Homo sapiens: one gene and its partners. The protein of the gene in region 4 interacts with the protein of the main gene of each other region in a biochemical or structural test. Each region holds a gene or a part of one and is shown on either strand. Other genes may lie near its edges. The genes, in order: DVL1, CCDC88C, SDCBP and FZD7.

Region 1 (8,186 bases), on a different chromosome or scaffold from region 4:
GAGGGCACAGGCGCGGCTCCCAGTCCCGGGCTGGGAAGTGCATCCTGGGAGCGGGGACCTCAGCCTCCTCTCCTCCCACAGATTACAAAAACAACATCCTGAAGGAGAGGGCGGAGCTGGCCCACAGCCCCCTGCCTGCCAAGTACATCGACCTAGACAAAGGTGAGCGGCGGGGGCGACCTCAGCCCATCTCAGAGCCCTGCCTGTCCCCATTCCACCTCACCTGGGACCAACGATGGCAGGCACCAGCCAGGCCCGGGGCCCCTGCCACCTCAGGCTCAGAAATCCCTGGGGAGTCCTGCGGGGGGGTCTGCCCTGTGTCTCCCACTGTGATGAGGGTGGAGGACAGCCGCCAACCCGTTGGCGCCCTTGGCTTCCAGGGTTCCGGAAGGAGAACTGCAAATAGGGAGGCCCTGGGCTCCTGGCTGGGCCAGCAGCTGCACCTCTCCTGTCTGTGCTCCTCGGGGCATCTCCTGATGCTCCGGGGCTCACCCCCCTTCCAGCGGCTGGTCCCGCTTTCCTGGAATTTGGCCTGGGCGTATGCAGAGGCCGCCTCCACACCCCTCTCCCAGGGGCTTGGTGGCAGCATAGCCCCCACCCCTGCGGCCTTTGCTCACGGGTGGCCCTGCCCACCCCTGGCACAACCAAAATCCCACTGATGCCCATCATGCCCTCAGACCCTTCTGGGCTCTGCCCGCTGGGGGCCTGAAGACATTCCTGGAGGACACTCCCATCAGAACCTGGCAGCCCCAAAACTGGGGTCAGCCTCAGGGCAGGAGTCCCACTCCTCCAGGGCTCTGCTCGTCGGGGGCTGGGAGATGTTCCTGGAGGAGGACACTCCCATCAGAACTTGGCAGCCTTGAAGTTGGGGTCAGCCTCGGCAGGAGTCCCACTCCTCCTGGGGTGCTGCCTGCCACCGAGAGCTCCCCCACCTGTACCACCATGTGGGACTCCAGGCACCATCTGTTCTCCCCAGGGACCTGCTGACTTGAATGCCAGCCCTTGCTCCTCTGTGTTGCTTTGGGCCACCTGGGGCTGCACCCCTTGCCCTTTCTCTGCCCCATCCCTACCCTAGCCTTGCTCTCAGCCACCTTGATAGTCACTGGGCTCCCTGTGACTTCTGACCCTGACACCCCTCCCTTGGACTCTGCCTGGGCTGGAGTCTAGGGCTGGGGCTACATTTGGCTTCTGTACTGGCTGAGGACAGGGGAGGGAGTGAAGTTGGTTTGGGGTGGCCTGTGTTGCCACTCTCAGCACCCCACATTTGCATCTGCTGGTGGACCTGCCACCATCACAATAAAGTCCCCATCTGATTTTTAGACTTGTCCCAGGTATGCTTCTGAAACTCCGTCTCCTGGGGCTGGGCAAGGCATGAGTCTGGGCCTGGGAGTCCTCGTCTCCACCTGGAACCCCTGACATCATCCCATTCCTTGGGCTGAAAGGTCTGGGTCTGGGTCCTCTGGGAGTCGGTGTCCTGGGAAGGGGACCTTTGAGCTAGTTCTGTGTGGCTTCTGGTCGTGGAGGAGTTCAGATTCCCTTGAGGGCTGACCTGGACGTGAGGAGGGGGGACGTGGTGGTGGCTGTGAGGCCAGAGGGAAGGCCGTGGGAGCACAGCTCTTGGAGAGGCAGAGGGACGAGGAGCGGGAGTAGTGGGATGCGGGTCAGACACTTGCAAAGGGGGCGGGAGCAAAGAGGCTCCAGCAGAGACAGCCCGGGACAGCAGGGTGGTTCCAAGAGTCTTGGCCAGGCCAGCACGGATCTGGCCCTAGAATCCTTTCCCGCTCAGGCATCAGCTGGTTGGGTGCAGGATCTCAGCACAAGTTCAGGCGGTGGGAGGAGTGGCGGGAGCAGGAAGGCCCGTGGCCCGGGGTCCTGGCAGCACAGACCAGCGACTAACTGCTGCTTCTTGAAGCTGGCGTCACCACCCAACCCCATCCTCCAGTCCTCCCAGGACAGTGGGGGTGGGAAAGGGTGACAGTTGCCCACAAGGACCCCACACAAGCATGGATGGGGAGGGAGGGAGGCTGGTCTGGGGAGGTGTGGCTTGAAGATGCACCCCCCTCCCAGCCCGGTTACCTCTGGCCTCACCAGTGGCCACACCTGTCAGGGCCCCAGCTGGACCACATCCGCGTCAGCAACGGGACTGGCCTCAGGCCTCTGGCTTCCAGCCTCTCTTGAGACCTAGCCTGGGGTCAGGCCCTCAGGGCAGGGACAGGCTTCCTCCCTCCCTGGGGCCTCAACAGATAGCCCCTCTTAGGTCTTCCTGCCTGGCTTCTGACCTCTGGGGAAGAGAAGGGCTGCGGGAAGGTGGAGGGGGCTGGCGGCTAAGCTGTCCGGGCTTGGCTGAGCAAACGCCACAGTTCTCCCTCTCAGAGCCCGGGTGCAGGGTCAGGATCCCAGGCCCAAGCTGACCGTCAAGCACTGGTGCCTGCACTGATCGGTTTCTTTCCGAGCCGGTGCAGCCCCCAGCACGGTCAGGGCCCGATAGATGCCAGTTCCATCTCGCCGGCTTCCTGGGGACGGGAACCAAGGGACCCCACCGCACTCTCTTCCCCATCGCTCCAGCCCCGTCCAGGCCCCCTCCTCACTCCCCCCGTCGCTCCTGCCCCGTCCAGGCCCCCTCCTCACTCCCCCCGTCGCTCCTGCCCCGTCCAGGCCCCCTCCTCACTCCCCCCGTCGCTCCTGCCCCGTCCAGGCCCCCTCCTCACTCCCCCCGTCGCTCCTGCCCGGTCCAGGCCCCCTCCTCACTCCCCCCGTCGCTCCTGCCCCGTCCAGGCCCCCTCCTCACTCCCCCCGTCGCTCCTGCCCCGTCCAGGCCCCCTCCTCACTCCCCCCGTCGCTCCAGCCCCGTCCAGGCCCCCTCCTCACTCCCCCCGTCGCTCCTGCCCCGTCCAGGCCCCCTCCTCACTCCCCCCGTCGCTCCTGCCCCGTCCAGGCCCCCTCCTCACTCCCCCCGTCGCTCCTGCCCGGTCCAGGCCCCCTCCTCACTCCCCCCGTCGCTCCTGCCCGGTCCAGGCCCCCTCCTCACTCCCCCCGTCGCTCCTGCCCCGTCCAGGCCCCCTCCTCACTCCCCCCGTCGCTCCTGCCCCGTCCAGGCCCCCTCCTCACTCCCCCCGTCGCTCCTGCCCCGTCCAGGCCCCCTCCTCACTCCCCCCGTCGCTCCTGCCCCGTCCAGGCCCCCTCCTCACTCCCCCCGTCGCTCCTGCCCGGTCCAGGCCCCCTCCTCACTCCCCCCGTCGCTCCTGCCCCGTCCAGGCCCCCTCCTCACTCCCCCCGTCGCTCCTGCCCCGTCCAGGCCCCCTCCTCACTCCCCCCGTCGCTCCTGCCCCGTCCAGGCCCCCTCCTCACTCCCCCCGTCGCTCCTGCCCCGTCCAGGCCCCCTCCTCACTCCCCCCGTCGCTCCTGCCCCGTCCAGGCCCCCTCCTCACTCCCCCCGTCGCTCCTGCCCCGTCCAGGCCCCCTCCTCACTCCCCCCGTCGCTCCTGCCCCGTCCAGGCCCCCTCCTCACTCCCCCCGTCGCTCCTGCCCCGTCCAGGCCCCCTCCTCACTCCCCCCGTCGCTCCTGCCCGGTCCAGGCCCCCTCCTCACTCCCCCCGTCGCTCCTGCCCGGTCCAGGCCCCCTCCTCACTCCCCCCGTCGCTCCAGCCCCGTCCAGGCCCCCTCCTCACTCCCCCCGTCGCTCCTGCCCCGTCCAGGCCCCCTCCTCACTCCCCCCGTCGCTCCTGCCCCGTCCAGGCCCCCTCCTCACTCCCCCCGTCGCTCCTGCCCCGTCCAGGCCCCCTCCTCACTCCCCCCGTCGCTCCTGCCCCGTCCAGGCCCCCTCCTCACTCCCCCCGTCGCTCCTGCCCCGTCCAGGCCCCCTCCTCACTCCCCCCGTCGCTCCTGCCCCGTCCAGGCCCCCTCCTCACTCCCCCCGTCGCTCCTGCCCCGTCCAGGCCCCCTCCTCACTCCCCCCGTCGCTCCTGCCCCGTCCAGGCCCCCTCCTCACTCCCCCCGTCGCTCCTGCCCCGTCCAGGCCCCCTCCTCACTCCTCCCATCCTGGGCCGCCCTCTAGTGGCCTCCGCGCTTCCTGCTGGGGTCGGGTCGGGAAGGCCTCCAGCCCCGCGAGCCCCGGAACAGTAAGCGCGGACGCCCCGCGGCCTCAAGGGACGCCTCGGAAGTCTCCCCTGCCCTGCGGAGAACCCCAGGACTAAATCCCTCCCGCCGCCGGGCGCTCCGACGCCTCCGTGCACGCCCGCGCCCCCGCGCGCCCCGCATCCGCTCGGCCTGCTGCCTGGACCCCGTGGGACCCGGCAGAGGGCACGCGAGTCGGGAGCCTTCGCGGTGGCGCAGAGCGACCGGGCGCCACCTCAGCGCCGCGCACCCGGCGTCCCCGGGGTCCCTCCGCCCGACCCGAGCGCCCCGGCGCCCACGGGCCCACAGCCAGCGGCGCGCGTCGCATGCGCCGGATCATAATGGAGCGCGGGCCCGCGCGCGGGGGCGGGGCCGGGGCGGGGCGGGGCGAGCGATGATCGCCTGCGTCTGCGCATCCTCGCCCCGCCCCCGCCGTGCGCCCCCGTGACGTCAACGCCGCGCGCTCGGGCGCCCCCCCGCGGCCACGCTCAGGACCCCGGGCCGGGCGGTCCCTTTAACGGCGCGGCCCGAGGGGCGCAGGCGGGAGGGCGGCGGGGCTGAGCGCGCCCTCCGTGCTGCGTCCCTCGCGCCGCTCCCGGGCCGGGGGCGGATGGGCGGCCGCGGGCCGCGGGGCAGCAGTCGGGACGCGCGCGGGAGCCGGGGGCGGCGGCCGGGGCCTGGGCGGTCGGGCGGGGGCGCCCGGGGGCCTCGGAGCGTCGGGGCCGAGAGCGGTGCGGGCCGGGCGGGGCGCAGGCGGGCGGGCGGGTAGCGCCCCGCGTCCGAGCCCCGGGCCGGGCCCTGAGCGCGCGGGCTCCGCGCCGCCGCCGCGCCATGGCGGAGACCAAGATTATCTACCACATGGACGAGGAGGAGACGCCGTACCTGGTCAAGCTGCCCGTGGCCCCCGAGCGCGTCACGCTGGCCGACTTCAAGAACGTGCTCAGCAACCGGCCCGTGCACGCCTACAAATTCTTCTTTAAGTCCATGGACCAGGACTTCGGGTCAGTCGGCCGCGAGGCCTGCGCGAGCCTGGCGCGGGCTCGGGGGTCGCACCTGCCCGCGCGGGGACGGGGCGGGGGTCCTGAGCCGTTCGCGCCCCCGGGGACCTGCGACCGCGACGCGCCTCCGCTAGATGCGGCGCGGGTGGCGGCCTCGGCCCGTGTGCGGCGCGCGCCCACCTGTCCGTGGAGCGGGGCGATGGCAGGCGGGGTTCCCGGCGTCCCTGGCCCCAGCTTCCCGGCCCCGAGTCCTGCCTTGGCCCGTGTCAGACTCGGTCGGCCGCATCGCTTCCACCGGGGCTGGCCGGGAGCGCCTGCCGTTGGTGCGGGCTGGGGTCAGGGGCGTGTCAGTGGGAAGGAAGCAGGGTGGGGTTCCCTAGCTGGGATGGGGAGACATGGGGGTACAGGTTCACCAACCTGTCTGCTAGGGTTTGCAGAAGCTTCCCGAGGGTCAAGACAGGTTCTCCTGGCCCCCTTCTGCAGGGTCCTTGTGACAGGGTGGAGGTCAAGGGCCACTGGTGACCATGAAACTTTATTCGCCTACCCGTGTCCTGAGCTTCCTGTGGGCCCCGTCCCCACTGAGCCACAAAGCACTTGCGTTCCCGGAGCAGCCCAGACCATCTGCTGTTTCGGGGCAGCCTGGGTCAGCGTCTCCCTGCTGGGCCTCGGTGGTGGTGTCCCAGGCGAGGAGACCCCTGCTGTGCTGAGCTGGGCCCTCTGGGACAGGGAGCAGGAGCCTGGCGGTCTGCTTGAGGCCTGGCCTGGCCCGGCCCAGCCACCAGTAACCTGAGTCCCTAGTCCCAGCTCAACAGTGCTGGGGGCGGGCTCAGGCCTCGTGGCCCCAGGAGGTGAGCCTCCGGCAAGCGGTGTCCTTGTGTGTGGCCGCTTCTTGGGATTGTGACATTAAGGTTGTTTCTTGGATTCTGTGGTTGCAGGGTCCTCAGGCAGCCCCAGGTCCAGTCAGGCTGGGTCCGCTCTGGAGCTCTCAGGGGGGCCCAAGGGACATCTAGACAGCTGTACTTTCCTTCCCCACCCCCACGACCAGGCAAAGCAGAGAGGGCAGGGTGCGTCCTTGGCAGCCTTTGAAGGCTGGGCGCTCCCCACTCGGCTCAGCGGCCCTCCTGCCCGCTCCGGTCAGGTTGGGCAGGAGGGGGCGGTTTGTTTTCTGAGTCTGGTCCGGGCTCCTCCCCAGCTGGGGCACCTTGCAGTCCCTGCTTCTCTGGGCCTGGGCTGCTTTGGCCTTGAGCATGGGGCATGTGTCAGGTACTTTTGTTTTTGACTTAGTTTATTATTCTAACGAAAGTTACCAAAGTTACTAATGCTGTTTGTTGCAAATGTGTGCCACCAGGAAATGCGTAGTGAGGAGGTGCCCAGCCCCCAGGTTCTGCTCCTGGACCATGCTCTGGGATGAAGCCCTGGGGGAGTCCGCCTTCTGCTCCTGACACCCACCGGGGGCTGCCCAGGGCAGAGACAGCCTGACTGTTGCCCTAGTGCACTTCTAGCAGTGGCTGCACCTGCTGGGCACATTTGGAGGACGCGTGGGTGCCCGGGCCTGGGAACAGGGTGGGCAGGTCTGGGTGTCGAGGCAGGCTTGGGGATGCGGCCAGGAAAGAGACAGGGGAGCTTCAGTGTACAGCTTTGGAGGCTGCAGACTTACAGGGGGCTGGGAGTCAGTGGGGCTGCAGAGGTCAGGGCTGGGCTGGGCTGGGCTGTGGGGGTTGGAAAGAATGGACTGGGGTGATGCTGGAGGTCCAAGACGAGGGCCTTGCTCTGTAGCCTCCCAGGTCCTCTGGCTGGGATGGGGGCCTTGCTCTGTGTCCTCCCTGGTCCTCTGGCTGGTGGCCTCAGGAGCCTACGGAGGACCCTCATCAATTACTTCCTTCATCCCTTCCCCTGAGTTCTACCCGCAGACCTCTCAGCACTGTCTGTTCTGTGGAATAGAACCCCCGTGGGAGGGGCTGGTTGGTCAGTAATACTTTAGCTTAAGCGACTGCTGAACTAGACACTGACCCTGGATGCCAAGCGAATGTAGTTGGAGATGGGGGGAAGAGAAGGCAGGTCCTCGCTGGTCTGGGGTGGCCTTCATAAGAGAGGGAGCTTCAGGCTGGGGACGCTGAGGAGGCCCTGGTGAGTCGGGGGTTCCTGCGCCAGCCCCCGCTGCATTCTCAGCCCAGCCCTGGTTCCCCAGCCTCTGCTCCAGAGCATGACTGACCACCTTGCAGTGCAGGGAGCCTGTGTCATGGCCACAACCACGTGCCCTGGTCTGGACCCCACTCCCCACGCACGGCTTTGGCCCAGTGGGTGAAGGTCCCCCGCCTGTCCTCCACTTTTCATGCCCTGGTCACAGCTATTCTGACCCAAGATCCCCAGGGCTGGGAGGAGGGCAGAATTGGGGAGGGTCTCTGCCTGGTGCTGGGTTTGGTGGTTGGCAGGGGGTCTCGCCCAGCCTTGGGCCGAGGCAGAGGAGGGAGGGTGTTTGGCTCCGGGTCCCCACTGCTGGGTGCGTGGCGGATGCTGGGCCTGCTGGACTTGGCACCGAGGCTGTCTGTTGGGCACAGCTCCCACAGTTCATCTCCGAGGTGGGGGTGACCCAGGCCTGGGACTGGGGGATGGGTGGAGGCAAGGCTGTGGGCCCAAAGCCCTGGTCCCCAGGGCCGCCTGCCATGGGCCTCGGTGTTGTGACAGCTCCTTGTGTCCTGGGTGGTGCTGTGGGGAGCTATGGAGTTGGGGAGGCTCTGCCTGGCCTGGGCTGTGGGGGGAGTTCCCACTCCGCCCTCCCTGGCTGTGCCACTTGGGGTCTGTGACTCAGCCTCTCTGTGCCCTGAGTGCCTCCCTGGTTTTGGGAGGGTCCAGGCAGTTCACCTACTGCACTCATAGCCATGGCCTAGCAGGGACACTTGAGCCTGTGTGTCCTGAACCGGGGGAGGGGCACAGAGAGATCCCAGGACTCGGCACCACCCAGGGGACAGGCTGGTGGAGAGCCCCTGGCTCTGGGGTCAGGGGTTGGGAGGCCACAGACCCCCAAGGCTGAGGGCCCTGACCTGGGGCGTGCACAGGGGGCTCTGAGGGCACAGG
Region 2 (7,765 bases), on a different chromosome or scaffold from region 4:
ATAGCTAAATGTTAACACAAGGTTTCATTCTGTCCTCACAACCATCTCTTAAGGAAGGTACTTTACGTCCCATTTTACAGATGAGGAAACTAAGGCACTGAGCGACATGCCCAGTGTCACACTGCTGGTAAAAGGGAGGCCAAGGGTTTGAATCCCAGCTGGCTATGTAGGCTGTCCGATACAGGCCAGGGTTCATTGTTTAGTTGAGGTAATTTTACATAGCATGAAATGCATAAAGTTATAATTTGAGGAGTTTTGGAAAATGAAACATACTCCAGCCACTCTGCAGGACATTTCAACTACCCTGAAAAGGTTCCCCCGGGTCCTTTCCAGTCAATCCTCACCACTTCCAGACACAAAAACACTATTCTGACTTCTATCACCTGGAACTGGGTGATTCTGATGACCCATGCAGGAAACCATGCCCACCCGCTCTCTCTTCTCTTTCCTCATTCTGGAAAGCCAGCCATTCAGCCTCCCCACGCTCCATTCCTCTGTGCCCAACTCATCCTGAGGGACCCAGAAGCACTTCTTGAAGTCTTAAGAGCTACAATTTACCAGTTCCCACTTCTGGAATGATTACCTTGGCATATCACAGAGAGAACATCTAAAATTGCCCAGGGAAGGGGAGAAACCCTCCCACCCCACACCACCCCGGCCGAATTTAGCCATGGGCCAAATGAGAACAAGTGATGAGCTGGCGTTTCTCAAAGGAACGGTCCAACAGGCTTTCCTGATTTACAAGCAAGTGGGAAACGCTTCAGGAATTCCAAAGGTCAGGGAAGAAAGAGAAACAGTCCCAGTGCTTTTGTTCCCCCCTCTGCCTGGGTGTAGGAGCTGAATGAAAAGGCTGGGGATACTGCTGGTTTTTTTAATTAAACAGTCTTGGGCTTGGGTAAGGACAGGTTGAAGTTTCACCGGTCATTGCGCCAATGGAATCCAGTAATTTTCAGGGTCTAACAGAATGAGGGGAGAGTGGCCAGAACTCGAATATGCCACGAGACAGCTTCCGGAAAACTCAGTTTCAACAAAGTTATCTAAGAAGTGCTGTCAAAGCTGGCAACAGATTTATGTTTTTCAATCTAATCAGACACTGAAGACTGGTAAGATTGGTAGTGACTTTTTTTCCTACACCCACAGCTGTGAACTTTAAAAAAAAAAAAGCAAAAACCATTAAACAGCATGACATCAAATGACTTATTAAAATAAAAGGAGGCCGGGCACCACAGTGGCTCATGCCTGTAATCCCAGCACTTTGGGAGGCCAAGGCAGGCGGATCACCTGAGGTCGGGAGTTCGAGACCAGCCTAACATGGAGAAACCCCATTTCTACTAAAAATACAAAATTAGCCGGGCGTGGTGGCGCATGCCTGCAATCCCAGCTACTCGGGAGGCTGAGGTAGGATAATCGCTTGAACCCGGGAGGCGGAGGTTGTGGTGAGCTGAGATCACGCCATTGCACTCCAGCCTGGGCAACAAGAGCGAAACTCCGTCTCCAAAAAAAAAAAAAGCAAGGTTCTTGAATTATTTTTTTCTAAACAGGCTGTTTAAGGCAATCTATATAAGCCACTTTCTGGATATGCCAAAGCAAACTGCTCCTCTGCCTTTGTGAGCCACAAACGAAGCTGATCTCTCATTAGCTAATAGATTTATGCTCCAGTATGACAACTTGCTCAGTCGTAGGTGAATAGGTGCGCACACGAGGCTGATCCACAGAGAACATTAGGATGTTTTATTTTGCTTCAAGTGCCTGTGAATCATCCCGACACTCAGTTCCAATGTTCCCTGCAGTTTGAGTTAAAAACAGAATGCAAAGGTAGAAGCCAACACCTACGTTGTGGCAAGCTGTCAATCAGGCCGTGCAGAGCTCAGCAACAGGAAAGGATGTGGTCAGATGTACTCGCTGGCAAGAGTAACTTCTACTAAGACCCTGTTCAGGCTGCATGCTTCCAAACAAACAGCACCATGGGACCCTCCTAACACTGTGACTTTAAACTCAGTCCATACAGTAGGACTTAATGAATTGCACTTGCTTTGGGGCAACTGAAAAAGGAAGATGAAATGTAAAGGAGCTCAGAAACACAGACACCCTCATCTAAAATGAAACTTTACAGTAACCCTCGGATGCCTGGGCCCACCCCGACACTTCCTGTAACCAGACACTCTCCGTTACAGTTCCTTGCCCTCCAAAAGGGGACTTTTTCATTTCATTGCTCAAACCACAATTAAGTCCTTGAGTCTGAAGTCAATTGCACTATCTACACCACGTAAATGACAGTCATTCAATTCCAAATTTCCTTCATCAAACCAACTGCCAGACCCACTGTCCTGGAGTTCTTCAAACACCTACGAATGTCCAACAGGCACGTTAATACTGAGATACCAGCGTCTCCACCTTCAGAGAACTACCCCCCACCCCACACACACCCCGCCATGCAACCTTCCACTCCATTTCTACTCTCAAACTTTCTAACGCACCATTCTTTCCTTCCTCCGAGAAGAAGGTAACTTACATTTGCAGCATAATTTGGTTCAAAAAGATGCCGTCCACTAAATCCATGTACATAGTCAGGTTGTCCTGGCTGCCGCTTCCAAACGGGCCAAAAGTTTTCACCTGCGGGGAGGGGGACGAGGAGAGAAAGACAGGAAGTCACCCCGTGCGCACAAACGGTCCAAAGCTCTCCCAGGCAGAGACTGGACGGGTCAGTGTGAGCAGAAGGGGGTCACCCACGCCCACACCACCCTTCAGCAGGCACCAAGCCCGGCCTTCTCCTAGGGCCTGTCTCCCCTCCCCGCGCGGGGCAACAGACACGAGACAGGAGGAAAAACTTCCTCGCCACTTTTCTCCCGCGTTCCAGAGCGGAAGAAATAAAAATAAAAAGGACTTTTCAATAAATGTCTCACGTCTCAAATCCATTGTAAATCAGTGCGCCCACCCCAGTCTGTTCGCTTTCCCATTCGGCGCCCCCCATTCCCCACCCGTCACCGCCATCCACCGGCTGGTCTCAGGGATTCAGAAAAACTACATGAGATATTTGGTTGGGAAGAATGGGGTCCTTTTCGGGAGTGGCTAAACCCCAGGGACAGGAGTGACCACTGGGACCCGGTCCGCCCCGAGGCAGCCAGCCTAGAGCCCCAGCGGGAACAGGTGTACCCGCCCGGCTCCTGGCCCGGCCGAAAGCGCGGCGGGGTCCCGCGCCGGACGCACAACGGGGGCGCCGGCTCCAGAGTTACAAAGCTCCGGACTCCAGGACGCGGCCCCAACCCCGGCCGGGAGCCACTTGCTGCGTCCCTCGCGCCCCGGAGCCACCCGGGGCCCCGGCCGTGTCGGGTCTGCGGCGTCCCGTCGCCGGGCTAGAGAGAAGCCGGTGCACCAACAAAGGGGCGGGGAGCCAGGCGCACTCACCCAGGTCACCAGCGGGCTCTGCAGGAAGAGCTCCAGGAGCTCCGAGACTGTCACGTCCATGCTGAGGCTGCGCCCGCCGGCTCCGCGCCCCCCGCCCCGCGTCCCCGTTCCCCCGCGCCGCGGCACAAAACGGCTCCGCAGCGAGCAGCGGGCGCGGGGCTGCGGCGGCTCGCGCCCGGGAGACAAAGGCGGGGCGCGCGAGCCCACGTTCCGCGGCTTCGGCGGCCCCGCGCCCCGCCCGGGTCTGGGGGAAGGGGAGGGCCAGCCGCTCGGGGAGGAACAATACGGGCGGCCCCGCCCCTCGGCGGCCCTGGGCGACCGGCGCGCCGCCTCGCGGTGCCAGCCCGGGAGCCCGGGAGCCCGGGCGCGGGACCAGGCTACGCGGGGCGCTGGGAGGGGACTGGTGGCCCGAGGCGGGTGGGTCGCGGGGCCCGGCTCCCCGCCCGTGGGACCGCGCGCCCTCGCCGAGCGCAGCCTCCCCGCGTGTGGGGCCCCAGCACGTGGCGCATCCCTGCGCGCGTGCGCGTGCAGCCGGGGCCCGAGCGCCACGTGCGAGCTGGGGTGCGCGGGCACTGGTGCGTGCCGGGAGCGGGGACGCCCTGCCCTCCGAGGTTGCTCTGCCCTCCGAGGTCGCCCGCAGCTGCCGCCCGCTCTGGGCTTGGGGACCTCGGCCCTGCGCCTTTCCGCACTCCTGGCAGGTGCAGCCCCAGGTACAGTCAAGAGGCCCCGCAAACCCCCGCTCCTCACGCTTGTGCGCGGCGCGATAAACGCGCCCCGACCCTGGGGCTGGGCTGGAGGGCAAAGAAGAAACTTTATGTTGAGTTTAGGCCTTAGGGGCGCGGCCCCTCGCGCCCTACCGTGCCCCACCGTGCCATGTTCCGGGCTGCCTGCCTTCTAAAAGTTCCTGCAGGAAGCAGGTGATGTGGCCTCCCCGACCCGGGCCCGCCCCCACCACTTTGCCGGAGGCGAGCTAAATTCCAGCCGGGGTTCCTAGCAGCAGCTTAGTGGCAGGCGACAGGAAAAAGGGCAAAGGCCCCAACTGGCTGGAAGGCAAGCCCGGGGGCAGGACCTCCTTGCGGGACGGCACGAGGCAGGAGCCGGCTCCAGGCTGGTCTCGGCCTGGTAATAATTTCACACCACCAGCCGGTCATTGTTCAAAGCACTGTAGACCATTTTACTAATTTAACCCTAACGATCGCCGCATTTCGCAGCTGGGCCAACTGGTACAGGGTTGACCCGAAGGGCCCTGCGTGGCGCTTGGCAAGTATACAGCAGGCACTAAATGGCTGCCGACAGGCTCGGTGGTAATTTTGAAAGTTGGCTCTGTGCAGCGTTGGGGCTGCGGCATCTGCTGGTGGCGAGTGGTATTACAGCCCAGCGCTGGCGGACCCCGTTGGGCTGGGGAGGGTTGTGAGATTATGGCCTGAGAGCCAAGGGGGTCGGTTAGGGGTCCCTAGAGACTGTGGAAGGCGGGGTAGCATAAAACACAATGGGGGACTGCGGAGGAACTAAAATTTCGAGACTACATGGTTTTGTTGTGCACCAGAAGTTCATTAGAGAAGTTCCTTAATTGCTTCTCCGCCCGCCGCGATGGCACTCGACCCCGCGGATTAATTTAACAACTCTGATGGTTGCTCTGTGAAATTTAAAGAACAGTGGTTTAAGCAAAGACCACAAGAAAGAAGAATTGAGATCAAAGAGGAGTGTGTGCCATCGCTGTGGAGGAGTTTCAGTTGTGAATCATGAAATGTCCTGTAAACCATTTCAAGGAGTTTGATTTTTATACCAAAAACAATGGGAAGACACTACAGGTTTTTGGAGCAGCAGCTCAGACGTGTCGAAAAAGATGTTTTGATCCCTAAAATAATGAGAGAAAAGGCCAGAGAGAGGTCTTCTGACAAGTTCAAGATTTTACCAAATGTTGCAAGAACTCTGGAATCCTTATGGTAGTAAAATGCTGGAAAGAAAATTCTGCATTGAAAGAATGTCTTAACAGCTCACTATAATGACCCAGCCTTTTATGAATAATGCAAAGTGGAAAACCTGAAGGAAAAGGAAGAATTCAGAAAAACTGGAATTTCTACAAAGAAAAGTCTACAGAAGCTGCCCACAAGTGTGTAGACAAATATTCAGATGACATTCAGGATCTCTAATACTCATGGAAGTCGTTTATAGAATAAACCTTAAATAATGGACTCAAGAATGTGTGTTTGCTAATTATGTGTGTATCCTAATTATGGAAATATTAATTTTATCTGAAATAAAAATCTTTTTTTCTTTTCTCTTTTTTTTTTTTTTTTTTTTTTTTGAGACAACAGAGTCTCACTCTGTTGCCCAGGCTGGAGTGCAGTGGCGTGCTCTCTGCTCACTGCAACTCCGCCTCCCGGGTTCGCGCCATTCTCCTGCCTCAGCCTCCAGAGTAGTTGGGACTGCAGGCGCCCACCACCACGCCCGGCTAATTTTTTGTATTTTTTACTAGAGACGGGGTTTCACCGTGTTAGCCAGGATGGTCTCTATCTCCTGACCTCGTGATCCGCCTGCCTCGGCCTCCCAAAGTGCTGGGATTACAGGCGTGAGCCACCGCGCCCGGCTAAAAATCTTTTATTTAAAAAAGTTCCTTAATTGCTCATAATGTAAGTTAGTTCAAAAATAGGTATGATGTGTACACACACCGCTCTTCGCTCGGAAGCCTCTCTTCTGAAAAGTAAGGGATGCAGATGCGGCCAAAGTTGTTTTTCCAATTTTTTTGGAAAGACAAGGATGAGGAATCTTTAAAGTTATTTATTGAGGCCGGGTGCAGTGCCTCACACCTGTAATCCCAGCACTTTGGGAGGCCTAAGTAGGTGGATCACTTCAGCCCAAGAGTTCAAGACCAGCCTGGCCAAAAAAAATAGAAAAATTAGCTGGGTGTGGTGGTGCACACCTGTGATCCCAGCTACTCTGGAGGCTGAGAATCACTCGAACCCGGGAGGGGAAGGTTGCAGTGAGCTGCTATTGCACCATTGCACTCCAGCCTGGGTGACAGAGCAAGACTCTGTCTCAAAAAAAAAAATTTATTGAGTAAGCTTATTCTTTCACACTAAGAAATACAGTGGACAAATGCCTTCTGACAGTTGTGAGACTTTTCCCATCCTGGTGAGGGAATTTTCCCCTGGGGACATTGACAAGGCCCTGGGCCACAGCCATGTCAGGAATGTTTGCTTTGGGGTCAGTTAGCTGCTGTGTTGGTTCATAATCATTGATGTATCTGCTACCATGCCTTGGCTTGACTACGCCACCAGGATTAAAAGGATCTAACTCAGCTCCCTTGTTCCCTAGGAGGCAATGGGGCAGGCAAACTGGATGGTGCCCCAGGTGTAGCAAGCTTGGAAGGCTTCAAAGGACGGGACAAGTTTGGCCTGGACAAGTTTCCTCCTAGAAGTCACTTAATCTGCAAAATCAAGATAAGACCATTTTCCCCATGTGACTTGACAAGACAATATTAAAGCTCAAGGTGATGCATGTAAAAAGATTGTGGAAGCCATAAAGCTTTATAGAGATACATAATCACTGTCTCTTCCTCATCTCCTGCCCCATTCTGCTACCCTTGCTTTAATAAAAATTGTTTCCCCGAAGTCTCCGTCGGGCTGGGGCATAAGCTTCAAGGAGCAAATGCACAGACCCTCCACTGACCACTACACAGAGAGTCCCAATGCCCCTCCTCCATCCTTCCAGAACACCCTTGGCTTTCACTCCATCCATCTGAGCCTTAACTCTTTATTTTTAAGTTTTTCCTTGTTAATCTCTGGATATAAATGTATCTATTGCTTAATACATTGCTTCCTGGGTAGAAGCAGTATTTTGTGTTCTTCTGATAAAGGAATTTTCTACCCTCTCAGAAAATACTGACTCAGCAGTGTTAGCTAATGGCATTTCTACTTCACCTGATAGGAGCAGGAGCTTAAATTGTTACTACAACTTGGGGTGGGGAGAGGGAATGGCTATTTTTTTTTTTTTTCGAGACTGAGTCTTGCTCTGTCACCCAGGCTGGAGTGCAGTGGCGCAATCTTGGCTCACTGCAACCTCTGTCTCCCAGGGGTCAAGCTATCTCAGCTCACTACCATGCCGAGCTAATTTTTGTATTTTTAGTAGAGACAAGGTTTCGCCATGTTGGCCAGGCGGTTCTCAAACTCCTGACCTCAGGTGATCTGCCCGCCTCGGCCTCACAAAGTGCTGAGATTACAGGTGTGAGCCACTATGGCTGGCCACAAAATACTATATTCTATGATAGTTTTATATTCTGTCACAGATCTGACATTTTGGAACGTTCTTTTATTTACTTTATTTATTTATTTATTTATTTATTTTTGAGACAGAGTCT
Region 3 (7,595 bases), on a different chromosome or scaffold from region 4:
TAAATTGTGTTTCTAGACCTCATGTATGAGCCATCTGGAATGCTTACTATCTGGGTCCAATGGACACTTTATTTTTTCATTTTTTAGTTTTTTTTTTTTTTAGAGATGGAATCTTGCTCAGGCTGGTCTTGAACTCCTGGGCTGAAGCAGTCCTCCTGTCTCAGCCTCTGAAAGTGCTAGGATTACAGGCATGAGCCATACGGTTCCTGGCCTGATAATTTTATTTTTTACATTTTTCATTCATTTTATGAATAGTTTGCAGAAGTGAAATTAAAGACATAATGAAACACAACTTTACTAGAAATTTTAATAACTGCTTCAACAAATTATCACTCCAAATTTTCCTGGTTTTGAAGATATCAGTAGTTGAAATAGGCAACATCTTCGAATTCAACTAATTGCTTATCAACTGTCATATAATTTTTTAAAAAAATCAATGATTCTGCCGTCCTAAATTTTTATTATCCCAAGATGTTTTTAATACAGCGGTTCCCGACATTTTTGGCACCAGGGACTGGTTTCATGGAAGACAGTTTTTCCACGGACGGGATAGGTGGATGGCTTCAGGATGAAACTATATCACGAGGAGCGTTTAACCTAGATCCCTTGCATGCACAATTCACAATAGGGTTCCTGCTCCTGTGAGAATCTAATGCTGCCACTGATCTGACAGGAGCTGGAGCTCAGGTGGTAATGCTGGCTCACCTGCCACTCACCTGCTGTGGGTGGCCTGGTTCCCAATGGGCCACCGACTGGTACTGGTCCATGGCCCGGGGGTTGGGAACTCCTGTTTTAATAGCTTAGATTAAAAGAAGCAAATAAACATTATTTCACCTTAAACAGTCACATGTCATTTTTAAGGGAGGCCAGTTGTAGTTGGTGGTTTGAGAAGGGGTGAGGTTAATAACTCAGAAAATGATGAGTATTGCCATTCTAGGTGATATTATTTGGAAAACTTTGCCAGTGTTTCCTACTTCATTAATCAGAATATTGTGTCCAGAGAGCGAATAAACTAGAATTCCAAAATATCACATAAGTATTTAAGTTGAGGGCCTTCGTTCTGTACACATATTTAAAGACTTCAAGGAGGTTACTCTTATATTGCCCTGAGGGGGTTGAGGGACAAATGGGAAACTTGGTACTGAGGCAGACAATATATAAATACATATATATATAAAATGTATGTATTATATATAACATATATAATACATATATATTATAATACGTATAATACGTATTATAATATATTCTAATTATATATAATATATATTATTTATGAATAATATATAATGATTTATATATTATATATAACATAATATATATTGTATATCATACTATTATACTATATCTTATATACTATATTATAAGTATATAAGATATACTTATTATATACTATATTATATAGTATAGTATAGTATAATTTATACCATATATTATATATTATACTATTATATACAATATAGTATATATTATATACAATATTATAATATATAATTATAATGTATATTATAATATAATATAGTATTATTATATATTAATATTATATTATTTATATATTCCAGGAAAATGATATTAATTTTAATCAATATTTATATTTAAATATTTATATTTAAAATATTTATATTTAGATATTTATATTTAATTATATATAAATATAAAATATATAAATATAAATATATAAAATATATAGATATATAAAAATATATAAATATAAAAATATTTATATTTAAAATATAATAATATAATGTAATATAATATATATTATATATAATACATATAATACATATTATATAATACATATTATATATGTTATATATAATACATATGCACACACACACATATATAATATATATATAGCCTTTTGGTGTTCTGAAAAAGTCCGAAACTATCCCACCCACTGAAAGATCTCTTAATAGAAACTATTTGTGAGTTACTTCTGAGGCCTGAGATACATTGGGTGTAGGGGCCTTTCATAATGCATGAAGTGAGTCACAGAGATTGCAAATAATGTAGTGTGGGCCAAACCTGGTCAAAGGGTATGTGGGCAGTACCATTTCTTTCCAAGGAATTAGGCCAGTGGAAAAAAGCTGTAGTGGTCAGGAAGGTTTGATCAAACCCTTAAAGAGTAGTGGGAGTTTTATCTTCTTAGTGATTACTCAGCTCGAAGGAAAGCCTAGAAACAAAATTCTTTAGTTTAGTTCGTACAATAATAATGTTTGATAAGAGTTGCAAGTGAGGTAAAATGAGATTCTTCCACTGATGTAATAGTTACTTTCAGAATCCTCTTAAACCTCATTATTGGTCATTATAAAATTCCAGCCACAATTAGAAGGATTTCCCAGAGTTAGCTTTGTGGTTCTTGAAAAAGGGCTGTGTTTCTAACAGTTCCCATTAGGTCAAAGATTTAAATATAATGTACAAGTGACTTAATGGAGCCCTTCAGAAAAATAAAGCATTTATCATTTTCCTGGAAGGCTTTTTACACTGTTAGGTTCAAAAGTACGGACTTGCCCTAAGAATATTTTGATCTTTTCAATAAGTGTTTAAAGATATCTTATTTACTGTTGTTTTGATGACATTTGTCAAAATACTAACATTTGGTATCTTCTTTTTAAAAAGTTTTTTTTATTGGTGAGACAGGGTCTCAGTCTGTCCACCCAGGTTAGAATGTGGTGGTGTGACCACAGCTCACTGCAGCCTCAACCTCCTTTGCTCAAGTGGTCCTCCTACCTCAGCCTCCCAAGTAGCTAGGACTACAGGCATGTGCTGCTGTCCCTGGCTAGTTTTTTATATTTTTTGTAGAGATGGGGTTTCTCCATGTTGCCCAAGCTGGTCGCAAACTCCTGGGCTCAAGTGATCCACCTACCTTTTTCTCCCAAACTGTTGGGATTACAGGCACTGCGCCCAGCTACATTTGATATCTTTGAGGATGAGGAAAAAGTGTTTATGCTGTGTAAATAAACTAAATTGAGTCCTGCCTTCAAGTAGTGGAGATAAACATGTACTAGCTATAATCTGAGGCAGAGTTGAGAGGAGTTGGGAGGAGCAAATAATATCCAACTGAAGCCTTCAAAGTCACCCTCTTTTAAGAAGTGACACTTGACCTATGCCTCAAGGCTAACTAGGATTTTGATTGGTGGAGAAGTCCTGGAAGGACATTCCTGGAAGAGAATGCACCTTTTACAAAAATATGCAGGCATGGAAGCATGTGACCTGGGTGGCAAATAGTCAGTGGTTTGCAGCTACAACATTTTAATACGTGGAAAGAAATTTAATGAAATGGGTCAAGAAAGTAAAATTGAGGAATGCTTTGTGATTTAAAAAACAGTGAGAGTTAATTAAGATCAGTACACTTAAAGCAAACCTGAAACTTACTTTTTCAGAAGTGTAAATTACGGTAATATTTGTTATTTAAAAAAAATTTTGAAAGTCCATTTTTCTTCTAGGCTTGAGTTGCTGGTGTGTGAATTAACTCAAGAGTTGTTCAGACAACTTCAGTTAATATTTATTTGAAGAGAAACTTCTATGGAGAGAAAAGTTAGGAAACCACTTCATTTTTCATGAGAACAGTGGGATTTTGAAGTTAGCCAATGACAGAATCAAAAAAAGAAATCAAAAATAGAAATAATATTAGATGGCCAGGTAACATTCTTTTCAGTGCATTTTGGTTGTTGATATTGCAACTTGCTTTGCATTTTGTATATTATATATCATATGCATTTTGTTTATATTGATAGAATGGCTGAAAGTTTAAATAAGGCAAAAAATTGTGTTTAGGGAAAGGCTGCTAGGAAATTGATCCTTTGAACCCAAAGAAGATAATTCACTTTGTTCTCCTGGATTAATACAATTAAATCATATTTGATAGTGCTCTCTCAAGAATGTGAATTTTTTTTTTTTTCTCACAAACCCAGATTCTGTTTTTCCCTTAAGGACTGTACCAGGCCACTACTATTCACCATTGTACTGGAGATTATAGCCAGAGAAATTAGAAAAGAAACAAAAGATGTGTAATAGCAGCAAGAAGGTGCAATAGAAAGCTCATATGCTTCTTCTCCCCACAGAAATACTGATTCAATAACAATACACACACCAGACCTCTTTGTGAGAAATCCGGAAACTAGTTAAGAGGCTCCTGCATTCTAGGTGAGCAGTAAACCAGCTGCAGTGAAGATGGTAGGAAAATTCATCCTACTTGCTCACCATAGTTCATTCCCCTGGCTCAGCATGGCATGAGCAAGAGGAAACTCCAGGCTCCTGGTTTTTCCCTGGGCGGGGAAAGAGAAGACTGAAACATCTGTGTGACATTCAGATTTTTCAGAGGTCTGCCCAAGGGTCTGGTTTTTATTTTGCTTGAATATAAGTTCTGACAGGAAAGGGCACCAGGTTGCGGGGTCATTGAAAACAAAGTTGACAGTTTAGATTAGCAGGCACTCACCATGGTCCCTCCCCCTCCCTCAGCATGAAACCAGCAGGAGAAAATCCTCAACTCTTGGCTTCTCCTTGGGGAGACAAAAGAGTTGGAATGTGTGTCCAGTGTTTCACCTTTTCAGTGGGCTGAGGGACTGGCTTCTGTCTTGCTTGTCTTGGAAAGCTGACAGGGGCTGGTGTATTCCAGGTGCCCAGGAGCCACTGAGAACAGAAGACTTGTTGCTGCTCTAGAGGACCTATGGTAGGGCAGACAGAGGATGATACAGCTCAGCAGCTTGTCCCTACGTGTGGCATGAAAGGTGTTGGAGAGAGAATAGTGGAGTATGTGTCCAACATTCCAGCACTTCAGAGAGCTACCCCCAAGGGACTGGCTTCTGTTTCACCTGACTTGGAGCACAGGCAGGAGTGGACATACTCTAAAAGCCCACTGATGGGAAAGGGCACCAGGTTGGAGGCCTCTGAAAACAAGAGAGCTGGGTGGCTTGCAGCAGCTCCAGAGAACCTGAAGTACCACAGACAGATAGCACAGGGAGCAAAAGATTATGAGATCCTGAAAAAGGAAACGAACAAGTTCATCTTGAGAATTTATACACACTGGTCGAGAAGAAGCATCCTCAGGAAAGGTTCAAAAGGCATGCAGAATCTCTAGTCAGGCCGATCAGTGAGGATCTTTCTCTGTACAGAGCCAGACCACAAAGACTGGGAGGGGTGATATTTTTTCAAATGCTTGGATCCCAACATGATGTTAAAAGACACACAAAGAAATAGGGAAACATGGCACAATCAAAGAGTCAAAATATCCAGGAACCTACTTTAAGGAAACACAGATATCTTCATTATCTCAGAAGGAATTCAGACTAACCACCATAAACATGTTCAGTGACCCAAGGAAAATGCTGCATGAACAAAATGGTATCAACATAGAGATTGAAAACGTAAAAAGGAACCAAACAAACATTGTAACAGATGCAATATGCTTCTTTGACCAAATTGAAAGATTTACTAGAGGAGTTTAGCAGCAGTGTTTTTCAAGGAGAAGAATTAGTGAACTTGAAGCCAGGTCATTTGAAATTATCCAGTCAGAGAAGCAAAAAGAAAAAAAATAAAAAAAGAATGAAGACAGCCTAGAGTACTAATGGGACAGCATCAATTTTATCAATGTAGATTGTATGGAAGTTCCATATGTTGGAAAGAGAAAGGAGCAAAAAGCTTATTTGAAGAAATACTGGCCAAAACTTCCCAAACTGAAGGAAGGCAGTGGACATCCAGATTCAAGAAGCCAAATGGACTCCAGAGTAGAACAATCCGAAGACATCTACATGGAAACACACTGTAATCAAATTGTCAAAGAATTTTGAAAGCAGCAGGATAAGAACAACTTGTCATATACAAAGGAGATTCTGTGGGACTCTAAGTGGATTTCTTAGCAGAAACCTTGCAGGTCAGAAAGAAGTGGGATGATATAGTCAAACTGCTGGAAGAAAAACTGCCAGCAAAGTACTGTATGTGGCAAAACTTTTCTTTAAAAGTAAAAGAGAAATAAGATTCTCAAAATCTGAGAGAGTTCATCACCACTATATCTGACTTAAACGCCAATGGGAGTCTGTTAAATGGAAACAAAAGTATGTTCAACATGAAAGTATAAAATTAAATGATAAAGCTATGGACAAATAGAGACCTGCATATTATTGTAATGGTGGTGAGTAAATCACTTATTTCTGATATATAAGTCTAAGACAAAAGTTTAAGTGCCTGTAACTATAAAAATATTAATAGATGCACAACATAAAAGATGAAATTTGTAGCATCAGTAATGCAGTATGGGGATGGATGAGAAGAAGCAGTATTGTATGCAGTTGAAATTATCAGCTTAAAATAGGTTTATTAGAAGATGTTTTATGTAAACTCCATGGTAACCACAAAGAAAATACCTATAGAAAATACACACACACAAATAAGGAATCAAAGCATATCTATTAAAAAAAAAAACAGTGAAACAAAAAGCATGATGGCAAGAGAGGAAAGGAAGGACAAAAAAGTTTCAAGATAGAAAATCATTAACAAAATGTCATTGTAAGTCCTTCCCTATCAGTAATAACTTTAAATGTACTAAACTCTCCAATCAAAAGACATAGAGGGGATGAATGGATTAAAAAAATAAAACCAAGAGCCAGCTATACCCAGTTTATAAGAGACTCACTTCAGATTTAAGGATACTTTTTATTTTTTTACAGAAATGGATATACTGATTCTAAAACTGATACTGAATTGATAGGGATTTAGAATAGCCAAAACAATTTCGAAAAAGAACAAAGTGGGAGGATTCACATTAACTGATTTTAAAACTTAATACAAATGTACAGTACTCAAGAATGTGTGGTACTGGTATAAGGATAGACATATAGATCAGTGAAATAGAATTGAGATTGCAGAAATAAGTGCATACAGTTATGATCACTTTTCAATAACGATGCGAAGACAATTCAAAAATGTTATTTTCAAAAAATGGTGCTGAAATAACTGGGTTTCCACATGGATAATAATGAATATGGATCTATACCACACACCGTGTACAAAATTAACATAAAATAGATCAAAGATATAAATGCAGGAATTAAAGACATAACATTTTTTGAAGAAAACATAAGGGTAAGTCTTCATAACCTTGAGTTGGGCAGTAGTTTCTTAGATGTTATATCTAAAGCATAAGCAACCAAGAAGAAATATAGATTCAAATTTGTCAGAATTAAAAACCTCATATTGCAAAATGCACTGTGAGAAAAAATGAAAAGACAATCTACAGAATAAGAAAAGTATTTGTAAATCATATATGATAGTGGTCTATGATATGGTCTGAATGTTTGTGACTGTGTCCCTCCATTCATATGTTGAATCCTGTAATCATCAAGGGGATGGTATTAGAGTTACCATATGACCCAGCAGTTGCATGCTTAGCTATATTCCAAGAGAATTAAAGATGCATTTATTAAAAAAGTATATAAACTTACATATTATTTGCTAACAATGCAAATGCTCATTGGCATTTTTAACAGCATTATTTATAATAGCCAAAAGTGCAAATAACCCAAATGTCATCAGCTGATGACAGCATAAATATAATGTGGTATACATACAATGGAATATTATTCTGCTATGAAAATGAA
Region 4 (8,155 bases):
GCTTGACAAGCACACCGCAGGAGGCCCTCCCTCTTTCCAACAAAGCAGCCACCGCAGACAGGGCTGTACCTTTCCCGGGGCCTCACAGGGGTCTGGACAGGCCACTCGCCCTGCAGCAGGGGGATCGCTCACAGTCCCCGTTCAGCCTCGGAGCCGGGAGAAACTCACAGCAGTCTCTGCTGGTCTCAACCTTCTATTAGGCACAAGCTGGCCCGTACCTTTGACGATTCACATCGCCGTTATCATCATCTTCCTGCAAGTCTTTGCCTGAAATCTTTTCATCCAAACCGCTTTCCACCCAGGTCTTCTTTTCCAAATCACCCCTCGCCCCAAATCTGCAAAGAACTTCTCACTTCCAGGTCACTTCTCAGTAGAGGGGGAGAAAGTTACAGAAACAGGCCCCCACCCAGCAGTTCTTTTCCCTACCGTGCCTCTCCTCTTGCAAGAGGGCTGGGGTGGGAAAGGTGGGGAGGGGCCGGGGCTCATACCGCAGTCTCCCCCTTGCTGCTGTGGCTAAGTCTGTGGTAGAAGCGGCGCCACGACTGCAGGGTCTTGCCCGACCAGATCCAGAAGCCAGTGGTGATGCCGACGATCATGGTCATCAGGTACTTGATCATGAAGACGGTGAAGTCGGGGCTCATGGGCGGGAAGTGGCCGGGCGGGCAGGGCACGGCATAGCTCTTGCACGTCTGCAGGAGCCAGGTGCGCTCCCAGTGCTCGCGGAAGGCCTGCTCGTAGAAGTAGCAGGCCAGGACGATGGTGGCGGGCACTGTGTAGAGCACGCTGAAGACGCCGATGCGCACCATGAGCTTCTCCAGCTTCTCGGTCTTGGTGCCGTCGTGTTTCATGATGGTGCGGATACGGAAGAGGGACACGAAGCCGGCCAGCAAGAAGGACGTGCCTATGAAGAGGTAGACGAACAGAGGCGCCAGCACGAAGCCCCGCAGCGCGTCCACACTGGAGAGGCCAACGTAGCACACCCCGCTCAGCAGGTCCCCGTCTACCTGGCCCATGGCCAGGATAGTGATGGTCTTGACGGCGGGCACGGCCCACGCGGCCAGGTGGAAGTACTGCGAGTTGGCCTCGATGGCCTCGTGGCCCCACTTCATGCCGGCCGCCAGGAACCAAGTGAGAGACAGAATGACCCACCAGATGGAGCTGGCCATGCCGAAGAAGTAGAGCACCATGAAGAGGATGGTGCAGCCCTCCTTCTTGGTGCCCTGCGCCACCGTGCGGTAGCCATCGTCCGAGAAGCGCTCCACGCACACGGCGCGGTCCTCTAGAAGGAAGCCGGCCACGTGCGCCACGGCCACCATGAAGTAGCAGCCCGACAGGAAGATGATGGGCCGCTCTGGGTAGCTGAAGCGCCGCATGTCCACCAGGTAGGTGAGAACGGTAAAGAGCGTCGAGGCGCAGCACAGCACGGACCACACGCCCACCCAGAGGCGGGCGAAGCGCCTCTCCTCCTCCTTAAAGTACATCAGGCCGTTGGCACGGCCCGGTTCGCACGGGGCGCCACAATCGCGCTCACCCAGGAAGCGGTAGCCCAGGTACGGGGGCACCTTGAGCTGACGGGGGCATGAGAAGGGGAAGGCGGGACGCCCCCTGCCATCTGAGGCCCCCGGGGGCAGCGCGGTGAAGGGCAGGTCCGGCAGGTAGGGCGCGGTAGGGTAGGCAGTGGGGCCGCCGCCTGGGCCCCCGGAGCCGTCCGACGTGTTCTGGCCCACGCAGATCTCGCCCGCACCGTGCACCGGGAAGTTCTCGCAGCGCAGCCGCTCGGGCCACTGGAAGCCGAACTTGTTCATGAGCGCCTCGCAGCCCTGGCGGGCGCGCTCGCACAGAGAACGACACGGCGGGATGGCCTGATCGAGCACGGTGCACACGGGCGCATACATGGAGCATAAGAAAAAGCGGAGTTCGGGAGAACACTGCACCTTCACCAGCGGGTAGAACTGGTGCACCTCGAGGCCCGCGTCCTCTTGGTTCGTGTGGCCCAGCAGGTTGGGCAGGATGGTCTGGTTGTAGGCGATGTCCGTGCACAGCGGGATGGAGATGGGCTGGCAGAAGCCGTGGTCCGGCACGGAGATGCCCTTCTCTCCGTGGTACGGCTGCGCCCCGGCGCCCGCGGACAGTGCGCCCAGCAGCGCCAGCACCAGGGCACAGAGGCCCAGGGACGAAAGCGGAGCGGCCGCGCCGGGGTCCCGCATCGCCGGCCGCGAGTGCAGCGGTGCTCTCAGCCTGAGGAGTGCGACGAGGCGGTTGGGAGAGGCTTGGATGCGGGGAGGCGCCGCCGCGCCCGACGCATGAGAGTCCTCACGGCGCCGGGGCCGGGCCGTGGGCGGCGTGGAGCAAAGGGCGCTGCCGCCTGGGTGCCCGCGCCGCGAAGGCGCCGCAGACGCCGCCGCCCTGCACTCGCAGGGCCGCCGGGGGCCCAAAACTCGTCAGCCTGGGTTGGGGGCGCCGAGGAGGGCCGCCTCGCTCTCCCCGCGGGGACGTAACGGTGCGGCTCCCTCCGCCGCGAGGAGCAACAAGCGGCTCCGGCACCCTTCAAAGTTTGCCCAAGACTCTGGACCCCCGGCGCACCGCAGCGCGCACGCCCCCCGCGCCTGGTCCGGTCCCCGCTAGGAGAACCCCTGCCGCCGCCGCTCGCTCGCCCCGGCCGCCGCCTCCGCGGTGCTGCCCCGCCTCCTGGCCTCGAGGCTCCGCTCGTCGCCGCCTCCTTCGCCTCCTCCTCCACACCCCGCTCCTTCTTCAGCCCCAAAAGCTCGGCCCCAAGTTTCAGCCAAACGGCCGGCTCTTGCTGAGTCCGATCTCGGCCCCGGAGTCGGGAGCACGGCGAGTTCTTTTTGGAAACCCAGTCACACTGCGTCCGAAACCGCGAGGCGCTCGTGCCCGCGGCCTGGCCCCGGCCCCTCCAGCCCCTCGCAGCCCCAGCAGCGAGTCCTGGCGCCCGCCGCCGCCGCCGCCGCCGCCGCCCGCCGGGAGTGAGCGCCGACTAACGCCTCGGAGTCGCGCTGGTCGCCAGAAGAAGCGTCGGGCTCGCGGGGTTCCGGGCCGGCCCGCCCCCTCCCGTCCCCTCCCGTCCCCTCCCCTCCCCTCCCCTCCCCCCCCATTCACAAACCACTCCGGGGGCGGCCCCAGGCCCCGGCGGCCCAATGGCGGCCTTTGTTTTTTCGGTGGCCGCCTTCGGATTGGGCGGAAGTCGGAAGGGGCGGGCGCGGGAGTGGCGGAGGCGGTGTCCGCGGCGCTCTGGGCGGATTCCTGAGGGGAGGGGCGGGGGACTGGGAGGGAAAAGTTCGGAAAAACTTTTACCCTGAATTCGCTCAGGGACGAAAACGCGCAGAAAGGGAATTTGCTTCAAAGATTTGTTCCTCTTCCTGGTGCACTCAGATGCGCATTCCTGAGCAGGGGCGCCTTCGCCAGCGGCGTTTGAGGGGAGCGAGGACCGCGCAGCGCCCCTTCGGGGAGAGACGTGACCAGGAGTCGCGTTAGGACTGCAAAGGCTGGCTCTGGCGGGGCTTTCGGGTCGCCGGGTCCTCAATGTGGGGTTTGGGACGGGACGAGAAGGGGGTGCGCCTTGCGGATCGCCTCTTTCCCCCCGGACCCAAAGAGTCCACGCGAGGCCACAGTCCCCTCTCCCCTCCCCCGAGTTATAAAAAGGAGGAGGGGCCGCCTCCGAGGAGAAACCCGAGTCGGGCGGAGGGGGCCGAGTGACGGCGGGAGGAAGGACCCCTCGGAGGAAGGGCCCGAAGCAGGGAGAGCGGGGAACCCGGGCTCAGGCCACCCCGCCCGCGCGCACGGCCTGGAGTCTGGGGAACTGGGGTGACTCTAGCGAGGTTTTAAGGAAACGAAGACGGCGTTGGGGAGACTGGTTCTAGAAGTAACCTGAGACCGAGCGCCCAGGAACACTCTGTACGACGCGCCGGGCGTCTCAGTGGCCCCGTGTGCCTTGGTTCTGCGGCGTGTGCCCTTTCGGGATCCCATCTTCGTTGCAGAAGCAACCATTTGATCCTCCATTTAGAATCTGCGTAGGAATGTTTTAATGCGTCTTAGAAACCAGGCTAATTAAAGAGTTTTCAAAACACAAAGCGGGGTTATCCTCGTTCTCGGGTAGCGTTTTCTGATTGGCAAACGTTCTTTTGTTCTCGGTTAAATCTTCGTCTTGAGCCAGGCGCTGGGCGCTCGCGCGCGCTCTCTGGTTACTCCTGCGGGGGTCATAAGTCACCAGGGGGCCTCTCCCCTCTCTCCGGGCTGCCAGGAATATCAGGAATTCCCATGCAGGAAAGTGACATGTTGAGAAGGAAAAGAAAAAAATCAATCAATCAATCTCTCCTCCTCCTCCTCTTTCCTCTGTCTCTCTCTCTCTCTCTCTCACACACACACACACACACACACACACACAGCAATCCTGTGCTTTAAAAAACGTTATTCCTGGCGGAGCCCTTCTGCCTCAGTCCCGGGTGCTGGAGCTCTGAGCGATTTCTGATCAGGTTGAACCTTGGCAGAAGTTGCTGTCTCTGCTGCCTCCCGTGCGCTTCTTCTACAGCAGGAAAAAAACTCATTCTGAAATCGAAGACAATTAATTGGGTTCCCTTCCATGGGAGACTTTGGCTTTCTCTGTTTTTCTTTATTTATTTTCGATCACTGAAGATTGCTGGGAATCGTTCTTTCCGATTCACGGTTCTTTGTCCTTCCCCACTCCTGTTAATAGGTCGAAAGGGCGGAAGGAAGCCTTTGGGCCAAGGCAGAGTGTTAGACTGATCACATCCTCCATCCGGCCCTCAGCGGGAGTCGCCTTCTTCCTCCCAAGCATCAGTTTCGCCCTCCCTCCCGGACCCCCCCACCCTTTTTTTCCTTTTCTTTGGGACATGTGCTGAAGGTAATACGATACCTGCTTTAAAAATGTTTCATTCCTTCTTTGTGTTTTTAAAAGGGCCCCCCTTTTCTTTCTAAATTATTATTTCTATTACCTAACATCGGGGAGTGTTGATCTTCGGTTGAAATATGTTGCTTAAAGACAATGCTGCTGCTTTGCTTTGTCATTTAAAGTATGTGTGGTGGGGGGTTAGATTCCTTTTTTCTCTCCATGAGCTTCAGGATATCCTCCTTTTCTAAATCAAAATTTCATGCTTATTCATCAGGCCACTGATCTAAGTCATCTTTGCTTATTGAGGAAGAAATACCAAGCACTGTCATCAAATAAAATGAAAACTGACAGGATAAAATACTGTCTCAACTGCAACTAAAACCAATTTAGCTGATGAGCTTCTACTCTCCATATTATAACCCCAGACAGCTCCGATGTTAGGCAATAGGGATAATAATTTAGAAAAAAAAAACCCTTAAATACAAGGGACGAATGAAAAGCAGTCTATGCCTAAGATGCAGAAAACCCATCCCAGATGGAAAGTGTTACAGATGTGAGTCCTCTTGCTCTGTCCCAGGCAGACAAGTCCAAAAAGCAGAGAAGCAAAGCCAATTTTTAAAACAGATTGTTTTGTTTTTAAAGATTTTTAAAAAATCAATCCAAAATTATTCTCCAAAATAAGAATTTGCTGTGAGAGGGGGAGCTCTGGCTTTCCAAGCCTTGCCTGGTATAGAATGCTATGATTTTAAGGAGCCAAGTCATAGAAGATCAGAAAAAGTAAGTTCACAATGTAAGGGTCTAATCATGTTTTAGGTTCTATGACAAATGTAGTGACATCTGTTTATATTCTGTCCAGGATCATTTTAATTTTGCTTCCTAAGCAACCCCTTCCACACCCAACTCCCAAAGCCACTAACTGGTATCTTCTTGGGAGAGCCAAGGGTGGAAAATTTTGTGACTATCTGCTGCAAAATTTCCAATTGTCCCTGCCCTTTAAAATAACAAAGGCCTTTATTTCTTCACATGTAGTCATATGGTCCCACAGAAAAGTGATGCTATTCATTGGCTCCAGTTTTGCAAATGCTACTTATTTTGGCCAAGTCCCAGGTTTATCTAGTTGAATTACATTCTGATGTCAGGCCAGATTTGAAAATGGCCGTCTTCGTGTGCCCCAGTCCTGCGGTTGTAATGAAGCTCCTGCTGCAAGAATTACTCATGCAAGACTAGAAAGGGCAAATTTTAGCACATGCTTTCCTTTCTGGCCTCTCTTTTACTAGACAATTTTGACGTAATAACATGGAGAACTTGGAATTTCCAGTTGTCAGGTTGTCATTGACTTGTGTTCATTTTTGTTGGGGTGTTGGATCATTCCAAAAATGGGGATATTCTTATCCCTAAAACCCTTTCAAGGGTTATGAAAGTTAGAGATATCTAAGTTGCAGAAGAGGAGGACCATGCAATAATCATGTTAGATGTGCAGGCCGCATCTTGTAGAGATGATTTATATGGTAAATTCAGTCACTGAGTCTGACCAACACTTCCCTTGTCGATTGAGAGGGGTTTTTGTGTTTCTGTTTTTGTTTTTTGAGACAGAATCTCACCCTGCCACTCAGGCTGGAGTGAGGTAGAGTGATCATAGCTCACTGCAGCCTCGAACTCCTGGTCTTAAGTGATCCTTCTACCTCAGCTTCCAGAAAAGCTGGGACTACAGGTGAGCGTCACCACACTGGGCTAGTTGAGAGTTTTATACGTTGACTATTGTATAATCAGGGTGTTGATCAGGGCTGTGATGGCCTCAAGGCTCAATTGGAGGAGCCACTTCCAAGCTCACTCATGTGGCTGTTGGCAGGCCTCAGGCTGTCACTAGCTGTTGGCCAGAGACATCAGTTCCTTGCAATGTGGACCTCTCATAAGGCCACTCGTAATATGGCACCTTGCTTCCCTCACAGCAAAGGCTCAGAGAGTCTCTCCCTCTGAGAGAGGGAGGGAAAGAAGGAGGGAGAGAGAGAGAGCAGGAAAAAATGACGATCAAGATAGAAGTCACAGTCTTTCTGTAACCTAATCTGGGAAGTGACATCCTACCACTTTTGCCATATACTATTCACTAGAAGCAAGTCACCAGATCTTCCCACACTCAAGGGGTAGCAGGGATTATACATAGAGTGTGCAAAACCATTGGGGGATCATAGGGAGCCATTTGAGAGGCTGCTTACTACAAGGATTATTCATTTATTCATTTCCAGAGTATTATGAAGATGAGGCAACAGAGAGAAACGACTCTTGGAGCTCTGTCCTTGGGGAGTCCAGAGAAAGGGTCACAGATAAAAATACAGTGTTGACTGGTTATGTTGCCACTTGCAGATGTTAGAGTCAGAACAGAACCCTAACTCTGGCCAACCAGTTTTCCAAACACATGTCCCTGGGAGAGAAAACATGGAGGAAGTTGATTAATAAAAGACCATGAACAGTTCTGGAAAAAATGTCCAAATGTAGAGCGCTGGCCATTCTGGGGAGTCAAATCTGTACTCAAAGGTCAGAGCATATGGACCATAGTCTGTAGAAAGCGACTTCGGGTATCTGGGTTATGATGTAAAAAGCACCTTTGGTAATTGCTACCCATGTCTCCAATGTGGGTCTGCACAGTACTGATGTCTAGGAAGGATTGCAGAGGTGGTTGATACAGACTGGTTTAGTTCTGCCTTTCACTATTGATTTCTTGTCCTGCCTCAGGCAAGTCACTTAACATCTCTTGCTCCCCCAGGATGTTGGGAGAATTTGTGAGGTAATATTTACGAAATGCTGTGTGATCCATAGGCAAAAAATCATCAGGGCAGAATCCTGGTCTAGTTATATGGATACAAATCTTAGGGATCAAATAAAAGGCCAAGTTAGCTGCATATTTTGGGGCTTTGGCTCTTTGCTGAGGTTGTAATTTTTTTTTTTTTTTTTTTTTTGAGACAGAGTCTTGCTCTTTCGCCCAGGCTGGAGTGCAGTGGCGCGATCTCTGCTCACTGCAAGCTCCGCCTCCCGGGTTCACGCCATTCTCCTGCCTCAGCCTCCCAAGTAGCTGGGATTACAGGTGCCCGCCACCACGCCCGGCTAATTTTTTGTATTTTCAGTAGAGACGGGGTTTCACCGTGTTAGCCAGGATGGTCTCGATCTCCTGACCTCGTGATCCGCCTGCCTCGGCCTCCCAAAGTGCTGGGATTACAGGCGTGAGCCACCGCGCCCGGCCGAGGTTGTAATTTTTTATAGTGGTATGCTGGTAAATGTTTAACAATCGACTCT

The links.
Region 1: the proteins of FZD7 (region 4) and DVL1 form a complex in vitro, tested with the Homo sapiens proteins (2 studies listed by BioGRID and IntAct, with this or other methods).
Region 2: the proteins of FZD7 (region 4) and CCDC88C form a complex in vitro, tested with the Homo sapiens proteins (one study listed by BioGRID).
Region 3: the proteins of FZD7 (region 4) and SDCBP interact in a biophysical measurement, tested with the Homo sapiens proteins (2 studies listed by IntAct, with this or other methods).

Annotation. Positions count from the first base shown.
Region 1 is NC_000001.11:1,345,824-1,354,009, reverse strand, and holds the start of DVL1 (segment polarity protein dishevelled homolog DVL-1), read left to right. Parts: upstream 1-4,591; 5' UTR 4,592-4,944; coding exon 4,945-5,114; intron 5,115-8,186. Other genes in the region: MXRA8 (matrix remodeling-associated protein 8 isoform 1 precursor), read left to right, coding at 64-162, 678-709. UniProt on the Homo sapiens protein: Participates in Wnt signaling by binding to the cytoplasmic C-terminus of frizzled family members and transducing the Wnt signal to down-stream effectors. Plays a role both in canonical and non-canonical Wnt signaling.
Region 2 is NC_000014.9:91,414,226-91,421,990, forward strand, and holds the start of CCDC88C (protein Daple), read right to left. Parts: upstream 3,596-7,765; 5' UTR 3,466-3,595; coding exon 3,406-3,465; intron 3,378-3,405; exon of another isoform or gene 3,154-3,377; intron 2,614-3,153; coding exon 2,513-2,613; intron 1-2,512. UniProt on the Homo sapiens protein: Required for activation of guanine nucleotide-binding proteins (G-proteins) during non-canonical Wnt signaling. Binds to ligand-activated Wnt receptor FZD7, displacing DVL1 from the FZD7 receptor and leading to inhibition of canonical Wnt signaling.
Region 3 is NC_000008.11:58,555,666-58,563,260, forward strand, and holds part of SDCBP (syntenin-1), read left to right. Parts: intron 1-4,618; exon of another isoform or gene 4,619-6,082; coding exon of another isoform or gene 6,083-6,130; intron 6,131-7,595. UniProt on the Homo sapiens protein: Multifunctional adapter protein involved in diverse array of functions including trafficking of transmembrane proteins, neuro and immunomodulation, exosome biogenesis, and tumorigenesis.
Region 4 is NC_000002.12:202,028,700-202,036,854, reverse strand, and holds the start of FZD7 (frizzled-7 precursor), read right to left. Parts: upstream 3,001-8,155; 5' UTR 2,208-3,000; coding exon 483-2,207; 3' UTR 1-482. UniProt on the Homo sapiens protein: Receptor for Wnt proteins.